2 linked regions of the Homo sapiens genome follow. The protein of the gene in region 2 binds, or shares a complex with, the protein of the main gene of each other region. Each region holds a gene or a part of one and is shown on either strand. Other genes may lie near its edges.

Region 1 (7,267 bases), on a different chromosome or scaffold from region 2:
GGTTCCTGGAAAGAGGAAGAAGGTACCCAGAAGTACGCCAGAAATCAGGTTCCGCTTTCTAAGCCAGAAGGTGGGGTAACTAGCTTCAATTCACTGAGCCTCTTCCATCGCGAAGAGGACAGGCAGAAGCAGAGGTTTCCTGTTTCCTGGCAGCTGCAATTTCCACTGTGTTCTATTGCCTGTTTGGGAGCTCGCTGAAGGTCTCAGAGGGCACACACTTTAACTGCCGTCAGCATCAACCTACCAACGTGCCTTCCTCCCTGCTGAGTTGGCTAAGCAGATGGATTTCAGCTGGGAAGTGACACCACCTGGGTCTATCTGGCATTGCATGAGCCCAGCAAAATCCTCCTAATAATTCCCTAGCCCATCAAGATGTCTACAGAGGCCCGGTGCAGTGGCTCGTGCCGGTAATCCCAGCATTTTGGGAGGCCAAGGCAGGCGGATCACTTGAGGTCAGGGGTTCGAGACCAGCCTGGCCAACATGGTGAAACCCCGTCTCTACTAAAAATATTTAAAAATTAGCCGGGCGTGGTGGTGCGTGCCTATAGTTCCAGCTACTCAGGAGGGTGAGGCAGGAGAATCACTTGAACCCAGGAGGTGGAGGTTGAAATGAGCCAAAACCATGCCACTGCACTCCAGCCTGGTTGACAGAGCGAGACTCCAACTCAAAAAAAAAAAAAAGGTGTCTACAGATTTGGGCCTGGTAGGAGAGAGAGAGAAAGAACTGACAAATTATTCAGAGGGTTTGCTTTGTTTTAAAGACAGGGTGGACCCGCCTAGGCAATATGGAGAAACCCCACCTCTACTAAAAGTACAAAAAATTAGCCAGGCATAGTGGTACGTGCCTGTAGTCCCAGCTACCCGGGAAGCTGAGGTTGGAGAATCACCTGAGCCCAGGAAGTCAAGACTGCAGTGAGACATGATTGCACCACTCCACTCCAGCCTGGACGACAGAATGAAATCCTGACTCAAAAAAAAAAAAAAAAGAAAGAAAGAAAGAAAGAAAAGAAAGTCCAACAACCAAAAAAACAGGGTGGGGCCAGGGGCTGAGGTTTGAGCCTGCAGTTCCAGCTACTCCGCCAGAGGCTGGGGCAGGAGGATCACTTGAGCCCAGGAGTTTGAGGCCAGCCTGGACAATATAGTGAGACCCCTTCTCTAAAAAAAAAAAGATTACTTATTTTATTTATTAATTTTGTTATAGAGACGGGGGTCTCACTATGTTGCTCAGGCTGGTCTCGAACTCCTGGGTTCAAGCAATCCTCCCACCTCAGCCTCCCAAAGTACAAAGACTGCAACTGTGAGCCACTGCACAGGGCCTAATTAATTAATTTTTAAAACGGGGAAGGGGCATCCTTGCTAAGTGTTTTTTTTTTTTGAGACAGAGTCTCGCTCTGTTGCCCTGGCTGGAGTGCAGTGGCGCGATCTCGGCTCACTGGAAGCTCCGCCTCCCGGTTCACGCCATTCTCCTGCCTCAGCCTCCCGAGTAGCTGGGACTACAGGCGTCCGCCACCGCGCCCGGCTAATTTTTTGTGTTTTTAGTAGAGCCAGGGTTTCACCGTGTTAGCCAGGATGGTCTCGATCTCCTTACCTCGTGATCCGCCCGCCTCGGCCTCCCAAAGTGCTGGGATTACAGGCGTGAGCCACCTCGCCTCGCCAACTAAGTGTCGTTTTTAAACATGTCTCTGAAAGCACCGGCCTGCTTCCCAGCCCCCTCGTTCCCTGCTGCAGGCCTCTTTTCGGCCTCTCCACTTGTTTACCCAGAGCTGCAGCCCTGAAGGGGGTTCCGCTTTGACACACAGCTCTTTTCCCATTACACAGGTTCGCAATAATCTCAGTATGAGAATCCCAAAATAGCATTCAGCGCTGTGTGCCAGTGGGCCGTGCTGCGGCAGCCCCCGCCTCCCTCTAGCCCTTCTTCAGCGGTTCTCTTCGTGGCCATTTGGAAGCATCCCCCAGGAGGCAGCCAAGGTGCTGGCAGCTTCCTGCAGGGCTCTGCTGGGCTGGGCATGGGTGCTTTCTTCACACCCACACTTCAGTGACACCCCTTGGGGCGCCTTGGCTGCACTGGACCCAAAGCCCCTCCCCTCCCAGGCAGGGGATCCACCAGCTGAAGCAGCAACCTTGCCATAGCTTTTCACAAGCTCCAGGCTTGAGAGAGTTTATAATCCCCATTTCTGTAATACTCCTGGGAGGTTTCTTAGTAACCTGCTTGTTCCCATGCTGCCAGTGCCCCATGCGTCCAGAGTCCACAGCTCATACACCTGCACCCAGGACAATGGAATCTCAGCAAGCTGAAAGAAGTCAAAACTTCAGGCATCTTTGGGATGCTGCAGTGGCTGCTGTGACAGAGGTTTGGGCCCACTCCCTTTCCTGTTTCCAAGTCAGCAGGAAGAAGGCTTTGCTATGGAGCCTCTTTAAGCCAGCTCCATGGAATGGGTCTCACCCTTATTGTCATGCCCTAAGATTCATAAGGCACAGGATCTGAAAGACAGCTTCGAGCCCCTGTGCCTTTCAGATGACAACGCTGGGGCTAGAGAGGCGAGACAGCTTGGCTGTTATCCCTGAGACTCTGCTTGCCTTTTCAGAAATGTGCTCTAACTTTGTTCTGTTGGAACTTTATAATGACGGAAGAGCAACACAAAAACATACGAAAGTGGGGAAAATAGAGGGAAATAGAGGGGGAAAAACCTCCATCCATAACATTATCAGCCTTAAACAATTCCCTTTTGTAATCTGAGGGAATTCCTTTTTTTTTTATTCAGACAGAATCTTGCTCTGTTGCCCAGGTTGGAGTGCAGTGGTGTTATCTCGGTTCACTGCAACATCTGCCTCCCAGGTCCAAGCTATTCTCCTGCCTCAGCGTCCCAAGTAGCTGGGATTACAGGCACCCACCACCATGTGCTGCTAATTTTTTGTATTTTTAGTAGAGACAAGGTTTCGCCATGTTGGCCAGGCTGGTTTCAAACTCTTGACCTCAGGTGATCCGCCTACCTTGGCCTCCTAAAGTGCTGGGATTACAGGTGTGAGCCACTGTGCCCAGCCAATCTGAGGGAATTTCTGTCCCACACATTAAGAAGTAATTTCTCTAGCCCCCATCCCGCTTACTTAAAACTACCTCTTACAGCAGTTACCCACTTCTGCCTTGCATTACAGTTACTGGTGTTCTTGACTTGTTTCCCCTTTTTAATTTATAAGTTCCTTGAAACGGAGACTATATTTTGCTCACTTTTATTTAATCCAACACTCATTTATTGAGTAACTACTATGCTAGATACTGAAATACAAGCATGAGTAAGTAAAGATTTCTTACGAAATTCGTAGAGTAGTGGAGAAGACAAATATATACAGGAAGCAAATATCTGTCACGGGCCAGACATATTACAAAAGGAGGCTCAAAAGAGGGAGCAGACGCTGCCTTAGTGGTTGGGCATGGCTGGGGCAAAGGCACGGAGGATGCATGAGTGGGTGGCAGCAGCTGGACCACATAGGAACAGGCAAGGGAATTTGGCCTTTATCTTGCAGTCATGGAAGCCACTGGAAGTTCTCACAGAGATTGCTTTTTTTAAATTTTTTTTTATTTTACAAGATCACTCTGGAATATGAATGGAGGGGACAAGAGCAGTGGCTGGAAAATCAGTTTGGAAGTGACTGCAGTAGTCCTGGTGAAAAATGAGGGTCTCAACCAAGGCAGTGCTAGTGGGGATGGAGAGAAATAGGTGGATTTAAGAAATATTTAAGAGGTCAACCTGATGAGGTTTAGGGAAAGAGACATTCCCTGGATGGATCTCAGGTACAGATTCTGTGAGAAATGGAGGCCAGCCATATGGGAGAGGGTGGCCTTGCCCAGGAATGGATCCTCAAGGTTCACATACGGACTTCATATCTATAGCCCCTGAATTGTACATAAACGAATGTGTGTGCTTGAAAGTGTATTTCTGGAAACACATTTTGCCATTTAACAACCACTGCTGCAGTTGTAAAAGGGAAAAGGGTCAAGAACAGAACTTCAAAGGGAATACCAACACCTAGGGAATTGCGCAAGAGGGCCTGCTTGAGGTTGAGATTAGTGCCTCATTTGTATAATTTCCTCATTGTTGAATTACAGATAAAACTCGGTAGATTTTTCTCTCAGGTGTAACTATTAATATTACCAATCACAGATTAATTGAATCCTGGGTCTTACTTTTAGAAGTTTCCAAGATCTTTCTAATCACTCAAAACCGTGGCCTTCCAGATCCTGGGACTCACGGGCATTTTTTGGAGGAAATTCTTTCTGGGAGCCTTCACTCTTTTGCCAGTTGTATCTCTTCTTTATAGACTATTAGAGGTCACTAAGGAATGACCTTAGAGTTTGCGTTTTGAGATTTAAGATCGGCTGAAGGATTTGTTGTTAGGCCTCCCTGCATATTCTATAGTCTGGAGACGGGGTAAGGGGGAGTGAGAAAGAGAAGGATGTTAAGAGCGGGGACAGGCAGTTAGAGGCAAGACGTCGGTCAAGATAAACACCTGCTGTACCAAAATATCTCATGTGTCCCATAAATATATACACCTACTGCATACCCACAAACATTAAAATAAAAAATTAAAATTAAAAAAAGAATTTATAAAGTCACAATAAATATGTCACACTAAATATGGGGGGAAGAGAGAGCTAAATGCCTGGATATCTTCTCCCAATCCCAGGCTCTCTTTCTCCCCAGATTGCCATTGTGTCTGTGGTTTTTCTTTTAGAAAAGACTTCACTTCTACTTTCACTTCTTCAGGTAACTAACTGCATCTACATCTTTAAGGTCCTTTGAGCATCTTGTGGTTGCCCTTAGCAACAGCTGCATACATGGGTTTTACAGGCTCTGTTTCTGACCAAACCATAGGATCAAAGCCTTTCAGGGTGGCACAGGATCAGAGCCCAGCCCTCTCTCTGATGTCTGGACATTGTCTACAACCTCCCTGCTGCTCCATCCACGCCCGGCCTCACCCTCACCCCACCCACACCATGCACAGATCATTTTCACTGTCAGAAAGTTCTTTATTAGGCTGGGCTCAGTGACTCATGCCTGTAATCCCAGTACTTTGGGAGGCCGAGGCGGGTGGATCACAAGGTCAGGAGTTCGAGACCAGCGTGGCCAACATGGTGAAACCCTGTCTCTACTGAAAAATACACAAATTAGCTGGACGTAGTGGCGGGCACCTGTAATCCCAGCTACTTGGGAGGCTGAGGCAAGAGAATTGTTTGAACGTGGAAGGCAGAGGTTGCAGTGAGCCGAGATCGCGCCACTGCACTCCAGCCTGGGTGACAGGGCGAAACTCCGTCTCAAAAAAAAAAAAAATTCTTCATTAGCCTGAGCCAAATTCCTCTTCCCTAGAACTGATGCACACTGGTGGAACAGTTTCTACAAAGGGTCAGTTTCCCATGCCCCAAAACATTTGAAATTATCACTTAGAATTTTTTTCCTTTGTTATTTGTTATGAGGTATTTGTGCAGGATGAGAGGGAGGAGGAATTGAGATTAACTTTCATTTTGAATTTATTAATCTTTGTACTAATTATTCCATGTTGACTATAAACAAACCTAAAAATGCAGACAGGGTGATAGAAGAAAATGGATTTTCCTATAATCCCACCATCCAGAGAGAATTATTGATAACATTTTGATCTATGGCCTTCCAGACTTTATTCTGTGATACAGAAATGGGACTATGCTATATGAACTGTTTTGAAATCTGTTTTTAAATTTAACATCTGGCTGGGCGTGGTGGCACATGCCTGTAATCCCAGCACTTTGGGGGGCTGAGGTGGGCAGATCACCTGAGGTCGGGAGTTCAAGACCAGCCTGACCAACATGGAGAAACCCCATCTCTACTAAAAATACAAAATTAGCTGGGTGTGGTGGCGCATGCCTGTAGTCCCAGCTACTCGGGAGGGTAAGCCAGGAGAATCGCTTGAGCCTGGGAGGCGGAGGCTGCGGTGAGCTGAGATCGAGCCCTTGCACTCCAGCCTGGGCAACAAGAGTGAAACTCTGTCTCGGAAAAAGAAAAAAAATTAACATCTACTGCAAACTTTTTCTGTATAAGTGCATACGCTACTTACTTATCTGTAGTAATTTATTCTTATACATATAATGTTAATTTGTATTATCATTTTTGCAGCTGAAGTATATTTCCTCAAATGGATTAAACCAGGTTTTGGAAATGCATTTTGCTGGGATGAAGCCAGGTTTTGATGCAGTTTCATGATCATCCCCATTCTGTGACAGCTCAGTACCTCATAGGAGACCTACATGGGTGACCCCATCAGGGACACTGGTGGGGTGTCACACCAGCTGAGTATCAGGCCCATGGTGGTTACCTAGGCTCATTGTGCCTATGACACAGCTGATTTATAATCTGGTGGCAGACCTGCCTTGCCTCCCCAGTGAGAGCTTCTGCCTCACCTGCTGATTTATTGCATAACTGTCCCCAGAAGGGCCAGTCACATTTCCCAACAGAGGTTGGGAAGGTACTGCTCAAACACCAAGCCCGCAACACTGAGACCCCTTGGGTTTCTCTCTGAAATCCTCCAGTTGGTGCAACATTGAACCACTTACTTCTCTGTCTGGTAGTAGAGCATCCCTCGTTGGAAGTAAGCCACTGCCAAGTGCTTGTCTCGGTTAATGCTTCTGGTAAAGGCCTGAGGAGAGAAGGGTCCAGACATGGCCATGATGCAAGGCAGTGAGGAGGTGTGAGATGAGCCACGGCTCACAGAGCCCTAGCTCCCTGTGGTGCCCAGCTCTGCTGTCTGCCCTCGTCGGCACCTCGAGGCCCACCCTGTGCTCTCACGGTGCACCCCACTTCGCTCTCACATTTAGAAGCTGAAGTCTGGGACAATGGTGTGCATTCCTTGTATTGTCATTCCAGTTCTGCTGTGGATCTACAAAACATTCCTGGAGCCATACATATACCATCTGATTTCTGCTTTTGTTAGTCATATATGGCCTAGAAAAGCTACACAAGAATCCAATAATTCCCAGGTGCGGTTGCTCACACCTGTAATCCCAGCACTTTGGGAGGCCAAGGCAGGTGGATCACTTGAGCCCAGGAGTTCAAGACCAACCTGGGCAAAATAGTGAGACTCCATCTCTACGAAAAATTTAAAAATTAGTCAGATGTGGTGGCACATGCCTGTGGTCCCAGCTACTTGGGGGACTGAGGTAGGTCAATCGCTCAAGCCCAGGAGGTGGAGACTGCCGTGAGCTGTGACGGCACCACTGCACTCCAGCCTGGGCAACAAA
Region 2 (2,767 bases):
TCCCCTTTGCTTATCACCTTCGGGGTCCAGCATTGTTTCATTTCACTGCTGAAATGAACACTTTCCCATGACCTCCAGTAGTGGAGGTTGAGGGTTTCTCGCCCAAATTCCCAAATTCCCGCCAGGCTCTCAGCCCACTTTGGAACTCACCCTCCCCCCCAGTACACACGCTTTCGCTGGGGTTGCCGCAGTTCTGTTCCAGCATGGCATATGGTCCATGCCTGGCCAGTCAGAGCACAGCACTGCACCACTCTGACAAATATGATTGGTTAAAAGGGGGCCCAGGACCTAAGCTGGTCCAATCACAGTAAATCTTAGTTAGAACTTTGCCTGGGATAGACATTTGCTCTTTTTGGCTGAACTTGAACTTGGAAGGATGAGGCCCTGAACTTGAACTTGGAAGGATGAAACCCTGAACTTGAACTTGGGAGGATGAAGCCCTAAGTCGCCTGCCTGAGAATGAACCAGCCAGCAGAAGGCAGAGCCCAGAGCTAAACAAGCCTCGATGACATCATTTGAATACCTTGATCAAGCTGCACCTGAAATCACGATATCTCCAAACTTGAATCAATAAATTTATTTTCTGCTTAAGCAGGTTGAGTTGGGTTTTCTATTTGCAATAGCAAAAGTCCTGACTGGCAAGGTTTAAAAGTTTGAAGACTCTCACAGGTAAGTGCAGCTCAGGATCCTGTGAGTGCAGCAGAAAGTCTTAAGAAATGGCAGGGGCTGGTTGAACCCAGATTTTCCATTGGCTGAGCAGATATCCCCAGAGGCGTAGAAAATTAAATTTGTTTTATGTTGTTCCAAAAGAGGAGAACTGAGGCCAGAGGAGCACACTTCTGAGACACTCATTTTTGCTGGGTAGAGGAACTCTCTGGCAAGCAGGACCATCGATATTAGAGCAGCTGGCCTCAGGAGGGAGTAAGAGCCCCATCCCTGAAGGTACACAAGTTGTGGCAGCAACCATCTGGCCTGCAGTTTCCAGAGGGGAGTCAGGCGTGGGGTGGGACTGGAGTGAACGGGTAGATGCTTCCACATGCGGCAGTTGGCACTGACGGCAGGAACACGGGGGTGGCTTAATGGGTCCTGGGGCTCCCCTCTGGCCCTCAGGAAGGCAGGAGCATGAGGGGCTTGGGATGCAGCACCTGCAAATTTGCACGTTCCTGGCCTCAGGAGGCCTCCAGTACAGAAAAGACCATCAACGAAGCTCTGCAGCCATCTGCTAAGAAACGCCACAGGGAGGGGACAGCATGGCCAGCCGGGGTGCCATCAGGCTTTGGGTGGGGATCCTGGAGGATCAGACCCATCTAGGTGGGAGCGCTGGGGTGCAACCTGGAAGGAAGATAAGCAGGGAAAGAGAATTTGGGGACATGCAGAATCCACAGCTCTCGCCTTCCTGGCTCACAGCTCATTCCCACCTCCAGGTCTTTGCTCAAGGTTTGACTCCCACCAGGACTGCCAATGCTGCTCTCCCCACCTCACCAGTCCTCTCTGTCCTTCTGGTCCCACACCTCCAGGAGGCCTTGTGGGCTGCCTCCAACTCACTGACCCCACCATCTGCCCCCTGGGGATCATAGCTCAGGCTCTCCCACCTCCACCCACATATGTGGGTGCAGGATCTCCCTGGCTCGACTGGGCTCTCCTAGGGCCAGGGACCAAGGCATCTTTTCCATCACCTCCTGCAGGAATGGGCAGAGTGGGGCTCCGTGACACCCACTCCCTGGCCCGGGGGTGGGGGGTTACCAGGCATTCATTCATACCTTGGGCCTTGCCTCTGGAAGATGAGCTCCAGAGAGTGAGACTGGCCCAGGCAGATGACAAGTAGGCTGCGGAAACTGAGGCAACCTCCATACCCACCTTCTTTCTGTCCTGGCCTAAATGCCACTCACAGTGAACCAAAGGCCACTGCTCAGCCAGGGCCTGCTGTGTATGGGAGTTGGGCACTAGAGTGGGGGACTCTTACCCCTAGAGGAGGCTGCAGGCGCGCTTCTGCTGCCGCGTGGGCTGAGGGCACAGCACGGCCCGGATGGCCTCGTCGAACACGGTTTTCAGGCCTCTCTGGGTGAGAGCTGAGCACTCCAGGTATTTCACCGAGTCTGGTTGGGGAGATGGACAGGAGAGCCAAGGCCTAAGTGGCGGGGGGGGTTCTGGGCCAACATGTCTCCTATGCCATACAACCCCTTCCACGCCATACACCCCTCCCACGCCATACACCCCTCCCACGCCATACACCCTCCCGTGCCATACACCCCTCCCACGCCATACACCCCTCCCACGCCATACACCCTCCCTCCCACGCCATACACCCCTCCCACGCCATACACTCCTCCCACGCCATACACCCCTCCCACGCCATACACCCTCCCATGCCATACACCCCTCCCACGCCTCCCACGCCATACACCCCTCCCACGCCATACACCCCTCCCACGCCATATACCCCTCCCACGCCATACACCCTCCCACGCCATACACCCCTCCCACGCCATACACCCTCCCTCCCACGCCATACACCCCTCCCACGCCATACACTCCTCCCACGCCATACACCCCTCCCACGCCATACACCCTCCCATGCCATACACCCCTCCCACGCCTCCCACGCCATACACCCCTCCCACGCCATACACCCCTCCCACGCCATATACCCCTCCCACGCCATACACCCTCCCACGCCATACACCCCTCCCACGCCATACACCCCTCCCACACCATACACTCCTCCCATGCCTCCCATGCCATACAAGCCCTCCCACGCCATACACCC

What was found. Proteins that work in one complex are often made in the same cells at the same time.
Region 1: RAC2 (region 2) and NCF2 share a complex: the UniProt entries of both Homo sapiens proteins name them as parts of the phagocyte NADPH oxidase complex.

What each region holds. Positions count from the first base shown.
Region 1 is NC_000001.11:183,580,312-183,587,578, forward strand, and holds part of NCF2 (neutrophil cytosol factor 2), read right to left. Parts: intron 6,667-7,267; coding exon 6,584-6,666; intron 1-6,583. UniProt on the Homo sapiens protein: Subunit of the phagocyte NADPH oxidase complex that mediates the transfer of electrons from cytosolic NADPH to O2 to produce the superoxide anion (O2(-)).
Region 2 is NC_000022.11:37,224,708-37,227,474, forward strand, and holds the end of RAC2 (ras-related C3 botulinum toxin substrate 2), read right to left. Parts: intron 2,097-2,767; coding exon 1,966-2,096; 3' UTR 1,964-1,965; intron 1,333-1,963; 3' UTR 563-1,332; downstream 1-562. UniProt on the Homo sapiens protein: Plasma membrane-associated small GTPase which cycles between an active GTP-bound and inactive GDP-bound state.